Regions from separate parts of the Homo sapiens genome. Here region 2 is linked to region 1. The links come from fine-mapping of genetic effects on gene expression. Tissue or cell type: whole blood. Region 1 holds a variant in brackets; the other region holds the start of a gene. All regions are shown on one strand. Distances are between the middles of the regions.

Region 1 (5,207 bases):
ATTCAATAGTTTGTAGTATAGTAGTCATGGGGCTGTATAACCAATACCACAATTCCAGAACATTTTCATCACCCCAAAAAGAAAGCCCATACCCCATCTCCCCCAAGTTTCCCTGCTGCCAACTCCCAGCCCTAGGCAACAACCAGTCTACTTTTGTCTCTGTAGATTTGCCTATTCCTGCAATTTCATATGAATAGAATCATACTATGTTGTCTCCTGTAACTTTTTTTTTTAACTGAGCATAATGTTTTCAAAGTTCATCCAAGTGGTAACATGTATCAGTACTTCGTTCCTTTCTTCCCCCACAACAGTCTCACTGTGTTGCCCAGGCTGGAGTGCAGTGGTGCAGTCACAGCTCACTGCGGCCTTGAACTCCTGGGCTCAAGCCATCCTCCTACTTCAGCCTCCTGAGTAGTTGAGACTATAGGTGCACACCACCGCGCCCACTAATTATTTTATTTTTAGTAGAGACTGTCTCACTATGTTGCCCAGGCTGGTCTCCAACTTCTGGTGTCAAGTGATTCTCCTGCCTCAGCCTTCCAAAGTGCTAGGATTACAGATGTAAGCCACTACACTCTTCACCTAGTTTTAAAGCCTGAAAGTCTACAAATTCAGCATCTCTATTGGTAAATATTGCCTTTTAGAAAGTAAACGTTGGCTGGGCACTGTGGCTCAAGCCTGTAATCCCAGCACCTAGGGAGGCCGAGGCGGGCGGATAACTTGAAGTCAGGAGTTCGAGACCAGCCTGGCCAACAAGGTGAAACCCCATCTCTACTAAAAATCAGAAATTAGCTGAGCATGGTAGTGCAGGCCTATAGTCCCAGCTACTCGGGAGGCTGAGGCAGAAGAATTGCTTGAACTGGGAGGCAGAGGCTGCAGTGAGCCGAGATTGCACCACTGCCCCCTAGCCTGGGTGACAGAGCGAGATTCTGTCTCAAAAAAAAAAAAAGTAAATATCCTCTAGGATAGTGCGGGCCATCAACAGTGTAACCTAGGTGATATTTGTCATTTTCCAAATTTGTAGCCGAGATCATCTGTAGAGAGTAAACATATTAATGAGCAGCAGTAATTTTGAATCTTAAATTGTGGGGGAGGGACAAGTAGGTCTGGGTGGAGCCTGTAAGTGTGCAGATTAGGACCACAGGAAGGCAGGCTGAAACCTTGGGCACCGTGGGTTTTTAAAGTGGACGCTAGAGAGTGGAGGTCACACTAAAACGGTCCCTACTCTACACTCAGGCCAGTCTGGATGGCTGTTATTCTTGGTTTAGGCCAACTCCCAGCGTCAAAAAATTTGGATTAACACATAAGAAATAGCTGCATTTCTTTCTGGCTTACGATGTGGTAAAACCTGCTGTTCTGGAACCTGAATATTACCTTGATGGGTTTATAACAAGGATCAAGGTTGTGAAAGTTCTCAAACTCTCAGAAGGTGATAATTTCAAGTAAAAGAGATTGTTTGTTATATGCAAATACCAGAATCACAGAGGAAGTGATGCAACGAAATAACATGCACTTTAAAATTTTAATACTATTTAACCTTCTTCAGCCCTCACTTAAATAGCAGTTTACATTTTCTGAACCACTTTCTCCTTCATGGGTCTCTCCTGGCTCCCCTACATTTGATGCCTCCCCTTCTGCTTCCTGGGCTGCCATCTTTTTCTCTTTTCCTCGAAAGTGTTGGTGTCCCCAAGGTACCCTTGGCTCATTTCTGTCTTCGTCCACTCCCTCTGCGTGATCTTGGATTTGTTTTCTATCACTGCCATTATCAAATTACCACAAATGTAACAGCTTAAAGCAGCATACATTTATTATCTTACAGCTCTGGAGGTCAGAACTCTGACATGGGTCTCACTGGGACAAAATCAAGTTATCAACAGGGCTGCTTTTCTTTCTGGAGTTTCTAGAGGAGACTCCGTTTCTTTACCTTTTCTGTCTTCTAGAAGCTGCCCACATTCCTTGGCTTGTGGCCCCTTCATCTTCAAAGCCAGTAGTGTTGCATCTCTAACCACAGCCAGGAATCCTTCTCTGCTTTCAAGGACCCACGTGATTACACTGGCCCCCTCTGGGAAATCTAAGCTGCGGGGTGGGAGGGAGGCTGCTATTCTGCTTTCCGCAGATCTCAAACACTATCATGGCTCCTACTATTCTCATGGGGTGAAGACTTCTTATGAACTTGGAAATTTTATGGAAAATGTGAATCATATGCAAGAGGGAATGGTATCAAGCAC[C/G]CCTGTACCCCCATACCCACATTCTAGCCCAATCAGCCTAAGATCACCAGAAACGAACCTTGAGTTTGAGAAGGTCAGATTGCAATGAGGAAGACCACATACCAGAGGAACTGTGGGGCATCTCACCAAACAGGAAAATATACCGTTACAGGATTTTAAGGAAAACTAGAGTTTTGGTAAAATTGAATGAAGCATTGTTTGGATAGGTGCAAAGCAAAGCAGGACTGTGTATAAAGGAGTCTGTTCTGAACTGTTCGGTGAACTCAGGTTTGTTTCCCTAGAAAGTACAAAGTTAAGACAAACATGGAATTTGTGTTCAGAAGCTCCTTACGTGAAACTCTGAACCTGGCTTGGAAACCAAGACAACTTCTCTGTGTCAAAGTGACTTAGAATCTTCTGGCCAAAAAAAAAAAAAAAAGGAATTTTTACTGATAACATTTAACATTTCACACAGCAAAGTTTTTACTGATAACATTTAACATTTCACACAGCAAAGTTTCTGATAGTTCATGATTTTAAAGAACAAGGTTTCTCTATGAGTCAGAAAGCAGTAGTCACACAAGGAAAGGGGTCATTATGACACTTTACGGCTACAACGTGCTCGTGGGAGAAATACTGTTTCATGGTAACTTTTGTGACTGGCTTTAGCTGTGTAATGTCCTCCCAGCCTGTTGAGTCGCAGGGCAGCTTTTTACCTTCTTAGCATGAGCCAACTTCGACTTTCTCGCCAACTTCGACTTTCTCGCCAACTTCGACTTTCTCACCCACTTCGGTTATCTACTCAGAACCAATCTGGTTTCACCTACAGCCTACCCCCACTCTCATTATTCTGAAGCAAATCCCAAACAGGAGGATGTCTTTTAAAGCTAGAGCTATATCAAACTATGGATTTCACAACCCGGATCCCTTATGCTCAATGGGTACAAAACAGTTCTCCCCACCCGCATACCCACCACCAACCCTACCCCAACCCAGCCAGCAAAGCCATTTCCCCTGCTTCTCCATTCACCCCGTTGGCCACATTAAAAACCTTGGTGTTATCTTTGACCCCCCACTTACACTCATTCTCAACAAATTCTGCCTATTCATCTCTGAAATCTTTCAAATCTTCTCTGCACCTGTTTCTGTCTCTCTAGTTGAAGGTGTAGTGGAAATTGTGGTTGACTCCCCAGCATTCATCCCACCTCTCCTCCTCTTCCATAGCAGTCATATGGTCCCCATTGTAGCAGTGGCCATGCCTAGGAATGGCAGGAATGGCCCCTCCCCTGCCCCCCAATTACTACTACCAGTAATCATTTCTTCCCCAAGCCACATCAACTAAATGATGTATAAAAAAGAACAGTGGTTGCTAGGTCAGGTCACCTGCCCCACCCCTGCCACCAGAGAGCTGCCCCTCAGCCTCTCCTATGTGGAGGTATGAGAGCTACCATGTTTTTATAACCCTATCTCCCATCACTCCTACCATAAACCCCACGAGACCACCCATAGCTTCAGATGTGTTTTCCCACATGACAAAATGTTTCTCTCTCTCTCTTTCTCTCCCACCCCCCACCCACCACCCCAAGCTTTTACACTGGAAGAACTACTCACCCTGCCAGGCCCAAGCCCACCATTCCTCTCTCTGTGGAGCCCTTCCCTCACCCCACACCATGTCCAGTCTTTGTGCCCTTGAGCACCCTGTTTATTAAACTTCTGTCAAACGTGTCATACCTGAATGAAAGTTGTCTGGAGACATCTCTTTGATGTCCTTGGCCTTGACCTTCTTGACATAGACCATGTCTTGGTCATTTAGTACAATGCCTGGCATTTATTTATTTATTGCTGTTTCATGAGTGCCTAACATAGACTTTTAAATAAAGAAATTATTGACTGGAGACACGCTCCGCCCTTTCTCAGGTTCCTGGGTTATTTGTGAGCTCTATATTACGATCATCAATTGAGGAAGTCCCTTCTGTGTACTAAGCACTGAGAATATGCAAGAAATTTGGGGCCTGGACTCTACTCTTAAATTGTCAAAGGAGTTGATGATTATCAGATGCCTACTGTGTGCCAGCTACCCTACTGAACACTTTCTAAATGTTATTCAACCCTCTCAATAATCCTGTGAAGGAGGTTTAAGGTGCCAGTTTTTACCAGTGAGGAAACTGAAGCTCAGAGTTCAGTAACTCAACGAGAGTCCCACAGTAACTGACAGCGCTGGGACTCACACCTAGGTCCATCCTGACTCCAGAGCCTGTTCTCTGCATAACACCAAACCATTACATAAGGGAGATAAGACTAGATTTTCAGAAAAGAAGGCAAGCAAGCATTTCCTTGGCTGCCTGTCTGGATTTACCAGCCAAATTTTGTAGCCTGGGCAGGAAAACCTAGTTTGCCAGCACTGCTAGGTGGAGGCCACCAGGTGCATCTTAGCTGTGCCTTTGGCCCCTGGGTCCCTGAACAGGTGGAGAGATGTTTCTGGGGGGCTAGATTTTCTCTTCTCAGCAACTGCACCTTCATAAAGTGCCCTTCAGGCACTAGCCATTAGAATGTATGTGGAAGCTTGGTGAAGGTTCTGGAGTGTCTTTACAGATGCCTTCTACTCCACTTCCCAGCTCACCCTTTATGTTGCTATCAGATGATTTTCTTAAAACACCTTTATTTTTTTTAAATTTATTTTTATTTTTATTTTTTGAGACAGCGTTGCTCTGTCGCCCAGGCCAGAGTGCAGTGGCATGATCTCAGCTCGCTGCAACCTCCGCCCCCTGGGTTCAAGTGATTCTCCTGCCTCAGCCTCCCACGTAGCTGGGACTGCAGGTGCACACTACCATGCCTGGCTAATTTTTTTTTTTTTTTTTTTTTTGGTATTTTTAGTAAACACCACCATGTTGGCTAGGCTGGTCTCAAATTCCTGACCTCAAGTGATCCACGCACTTCAGCCTCCCAAAGTGCTGGGACTGCAGGTGTGAGCCACCACACCCAGCCTAAAAACCTTTAATC
Region 2 (5,130 bases), 37 kb before region 1:
CTGTTTCTTGATCTGAATCCAGGTAACAGTCATTCCATTTGTGAAAACTTCATTGAACTGTACACTTACAACACATCCTCTTTTCCTCACTGCACAACACATCCTCTTTTCCTCACTACATACTATGCTTTACCATAATTTTTTTTTTTTTTTTTTTTTGAGACGGAGTCTCGCTCTGTCGCCCAGGCTGGAGCACAGTGGCGCGATCTCGGCTCACTGCAAGCTCCGCCTCCCCGGTTCAGGCCATTCTCCTGCCTCAGCCTCCTGAGTAGCTGGGACTACAGGAGCCCACCACCACACTCCGCTTTTTTTTTTTTCTCTCTCTTTAGTAGAGACAGGGTTTCACCATGTTAGCCAGGATGGTCTTGATCTCCTGACCTCGTGATCCGCCCTCGTCAGCCTCCCAAAGTGCTGGGATTACAGGCGTGAGCCACCGCGCCAGGCCACTTCACCATAAAATTTTTAAAAATAATTTTTAGGAGCTCTGTTACTGGTGGAGGGTGCCCAGGTTCTTGACATTTTGAACAAAGAATTGGACAAAACGTACAAAGCAAGGAAACAATGAAGCAACAAAAGCACAGATTTATTGTACATCAAAGAACACTCCTTGCGGTAGGAAGGGCCCAAGCAAGCAGCAATTACAGAATTTTCTGGGGTTTAAATACCTTCTAGAGGTTTCCCATTGGTTACCTGGTGTACACCCTATGTAAATGAAGTAGTGGCCAGCGATCAGTCTGATTGGTTGCAGGAGGGGACCAATCAGAGGCTGAAGTAAAGTTATGAAGTTATACCCCATGCAACTAAAGACTTGGCCTGCCACCAGCCTGACTGATTGCCCGCGGGGACCAGTCAGAGGTACTTTCAATTTTTTATCTGCCACCCAGAAGAGGGATTAGCTTCTGGTCCTTTTGTTACTTGGGCTAGAAAGTTGGGGTTTTCCTTTTGATTTAGTTCTAGGAAGTCAGCCTAAATCGGCCTTAGGTTCCCTGTCTCCAGACCCTATTTTCCTGCCTCGTAGCTTTTAGGAGATTAATGCCTGCCTGCAGACAACTTCCTCATTTAACTTTCACAACACCCCTGAGGCAGCAAGATCCTGGCGAGGCAGAGAGCCTCTCAAGCTTTTTTGGATGAATATTTTCCAAGTCTGAGTTTACATAGGTAAAGAAATGTAAGCAGTTTTTTTTTTGTTTTTTGTTTTGTTTTGTTTTGTTTTGTTTTGTTTTAACAGAAGTGGCTGCTGGAGTGGAGATGGGAATGGGTAGGACTTTAGCCGCTCCAGTAGCCATTAACGCCCCACCCTGGTTATCCTTAAAAAATTCGATTAAAAAAAAAGTTCTTAATATATAAACATGACCTCAGCCATCCTATATATACATCAACATAAGAAAAAGGTCCCGTGCTTTTTATGGGAACAGCTTCAAGACAGGTATCCCAGCCCCCGGCCCCTCCCCAGCCCCCTTGCAATCAGATCCTTGTCTTCTAAAACCTGCCACACCTAAGAGCGCTGCCTGAAGGCCGGTTTGGCCTGTTGACTCCTGGTTTTGACTGTTGGTGATTTAAGCGATTGGAACTGGAAGCACCATTTGACAACATTTTGTAAATCATTACTTCTGAGGTTGTTATGACGACGGGGTGTGGCAGTCCGGCTTCACCTGTGGCAGCAGCTTAGGTCCCTGCCCTCCTGCAGAGCACACTTCACCGACAGCAGGACTCAGGTTTTATACAAGTCTCTACTCGCCATTGCTTACGTCCAAGAACCCAGCCTACCAGGTTTAAACAATTTCCAGTCACATACCTGAGCCACCACCACCTTATCCTGAAGGGATTTTTGGGTATAATGCAAATCGATTGACCGAACATTTATTTACTTATTCAAGACACAAACTAAGAGATGGGGTGTAACTGATTATCTAATTTGTTAATTTAGTCAATAATATGCCAGCATTGTGCAGGGGAATTACAGGGAATAGGAAAAAGTTAAATTTGTGTAAATCATCAGATTGAGTCATTTTCCTACTTTAAAACTTCCATTTTCTTCCGATATTAAAATAAAAACCAGACAACAAGCACCTGGGGGGGGGGAAATCCCCTCTTAAAATTACAATTTCTATTTTTAATTTTGTCTTCAGTTATAAAATTTATTTTAAAGTTATACAAAAATGAAGTGGTTGGATTGTGGAATTACGTCTTTTAAAATGTTATTTGTCCAATGAACAAAAACCACTCGCACCGCAACTCCTTTTACTATCAAATTCTGCACCGTTGCAAAACTTCCTTCACTCAACGCTTCTTTACAAACATCGCGATAGCGGAGCGGTCTCTTGGGCGCACCCCGCCGCATGTTCAACCCCACCCACTTCCTGTCTGACGATCTCCTTACGTCAACGGTGCGCTGGAGCGAGTGAGCAGCGATACCTAGGGCGGAAGTGCTCTCGGCGGAAGTGATCGCTGTGTGAATCGTGGGTGGGATGGCCGCGGGCCGCCTCTTTCTAAGTCGGCTTCGAGCACCCTTCAGTTCCATGGCCAAGAGCCCACTCGAGGGCGTTTCCTCCTCCAGAGGCCTGCACGCGGGGCGCGGGCCCCGAAGGCTCTCCATCGAAGGCAACATTGGTAAGGGCCGGAAAGCGGCTGCCAAGCCTTGGCCTCCGCCACGCAGGCGACAGAGGCTGGGAAAGGAGCTGGGCCCGGAATGGCCTGCGTCTGATGCGGCCGGCCTCTTTTTCTGGGCTGCGAGGAGAGCCTTTCCCCTCGCAAAGTGCACTGTGTATCTTTGCCTCCTTGTTTTTAGGATATCGGGCCTCAGTACCCGCCCACAGGAACATATTTGTTGGGGCATAAAAGCCACGCAGTTAGTGGATAGGACAAGAATTGTATTAGCTGTTTGTAATAGATCGAAATTGAAGCGACAAGCGGGTGCAGTTTATTTGTTCTCCTAGATAGGGTTGCCATATTTAGCAGAAATTAAAAATAATATCCAGTTAAAATAGAATTTAAGATAACGAATAATTTTTAGTGTGTGTCCAATGCAATATTTGGGACATCCTTACAGCAAAACAACAACGAAATCACTCATTGAAAGTTCAAATTTAACTGTGTCCTGTATTTTATCTGGCAACCCTATTCGAAGAGAGTTCCTAAATTTCAGTCGTTCAAATACCACATTCACAATTTTTGCCCTGTGCCTGTGCTAGTTGCATAATAATTTCTTAAGGCTTTTCTTAGAAGAACCTCACTTTTTAAACTTAAAAACATGTATTAAATTAAAAATTATTTTGTTAAAAGAGTGAGATCCAGTATCTTGAATAAAAAGTAGTCAGAAAGCAAAATGAAGGCAAAGCATTTCGATTTAATATTAATAAATTCTGACTTGATACTTTTATCTACCAAGTCACTGAGCCCCTAAAAGGGGCTTAGCAAGTGTTGAGTACTGAAGACGTAGCAGCAAACTGAGAATTTCTTTTTTTATTCATTCAACAAATCACCTTTTGAGCCACTTCCATATGCCAGCACTGTTCTTGGCCTGGAGAATACAGCTGTGAATAGAACAAATAAAAATCTCTGCTCTCATGGAACTCAAGTAGGGAGAGATGGACAATAAACAACATAAATTAAGCAAGGTGAACAATATGTTAGAGAGTAATAAGTATGATGGAGAAAAATTAGGGATGAAGAATTGAGGGAAGTTTTTATTTTATTTTATTTGAGATGGAGTTTTGCTCTTGTTACCCAGGCTGGAGTGCAATGACACGATCTCGACTCACTGCAACCTCTGCCTCCCTGGTTCAAGCGATTCTCCTGCCTCAGCCTCCCGAATAGCTGGGATTAGGGGCACCCGCCACCACACCCAGTTAATTTTTGTTTTGTTAGTAGAGACAGGGTTTCACCATGTTGGCCAGGCTGGTCTCAAACTCCTAACCTCAGGTGATCCGCCTGCCTCGGCCTCCCAAAGTGCTGGGATTATAGGCGTTAGCCACTGCACCTGGCCGAAGTTGTCATTTTAAATAAAATAAGCAAGGCCTCACTGAGAAGGTGACATCTGAGCAAAAAACTGAAGATGAGGGAGCAAATCACGTGGATACCTGGGAGAAGAATCTTCTAGGCAGAGTGAAGAGCAATTGGAAAGGCCCTGAGGTGGAAAGTGTGTTCGGGGAATAGGAGGGAAATCGTTGTGACTGAAGTCGAGTGAGCAAGGATGGGAGGGAAATTAGGGCAAAAGCCCAAGGGGTGGCCAGATTTTATAGGCCTTATCATGGGTTTTTAATCTTACCGAGATGGGTAGCCATTGGAAGGTTTGAGGAGTCAAGTGACAGTTTTACTTAGATTATAAAAAGATCACTGTGGCTGATAACATTGAAAGTGAAGAGTGTTAAGTGGTATTGCAATAATTATAGTATTGTGAAAAGTGAAAGTGGTGAGACGTGATTGGATTCTAGTTATACGTTAACAAAAATTGAGTTACATTTTAAGTAAAATTTAACAGTGGAAGTGGTGAGAAATGATTGGGTTCTAGTTATATTTTAAGATAGGGCCAATTGGATTTGGTGACAGGTTGAATGCAGAGTGTAAGGTAAAGAGAGGGGCCAATGATGACTCCAATTATTTTGACTTGAGTACTTGAAAGATAGACTCCTGATTTTCTTTTATTTCCTCCTCTCCTTCTTCCTCCCCTCCCCTCGCTTCCCCTCCTTTGGTGTGGTCTTGCCCTGTTGCCAGGCTAGAATACAGTGATGCAATTGCATCTCACTGCAGCCTGCCTCCCAGGCTCAAGCCATCCTCCCACCTTAGCCTCTTGAGTAGCTGGATCCACAGGTGTTTGCCACTATGCGTGGCTAATTTTGTATATTTTTTGTAGAGACAGGGTCTCACTATATTTTCCAGGCTGGTCTTGATCTCCTGGGCTCAATTGATCCTCCTGCCTTGGCTTCCCAAAGTGCTGGGATTACAGAAGTGAGCCTTGGTTTTAAGCATGTTAGGTTTTTACATGCCTATTAATATCCAAGTAGAGGTGTTGAATAGGTAATTGGATATGTAAGTTCAGAATTAGGGTCTCCCCGGACTGGAGCTGTAAATGTAGGTGGTATTTAATGCCAGAGACTATGTGTTGATGGAAAGGACTGAGCCCTGAGCATG

The links. PIP is the estimated chance that this variant, and not a neighbour inherited with it, causes the effect.
Region 2: it holds the start of DGUOK, and the variant in region 1 is fine-mapped to the expression of DGUOK in whole blood (TOPMed, PIP above 0.99).

What each region holds. Positions count from the first base shown.
Region 1 is chr2:73,961,093-73,966,299 of GRCh38, forward strand. The region is part of intron 1 of DGUOK-AS1 (DGUOK antisense RNA 1); the gene reads right to left. Among named protein-coding and RNA genes, the nearest start is that of DGUOK-AS1, 18 kb to the right of the region's middle. The variant C/G (reference allele first, on the strand shown) is at 2,229.
Region 2 is chr2:73,924,443-73,929,572 of GRCh38, forward strand. DGUOK (deoxyguanosine kinase) reads left to right here and starts at 2,438. Exons shown (of 7, transcript NM_080916.3): 1 at 2,438-2,610. The coding sequence starts at 2,469. RefSeq lists an enhancer at 2,470-2,739.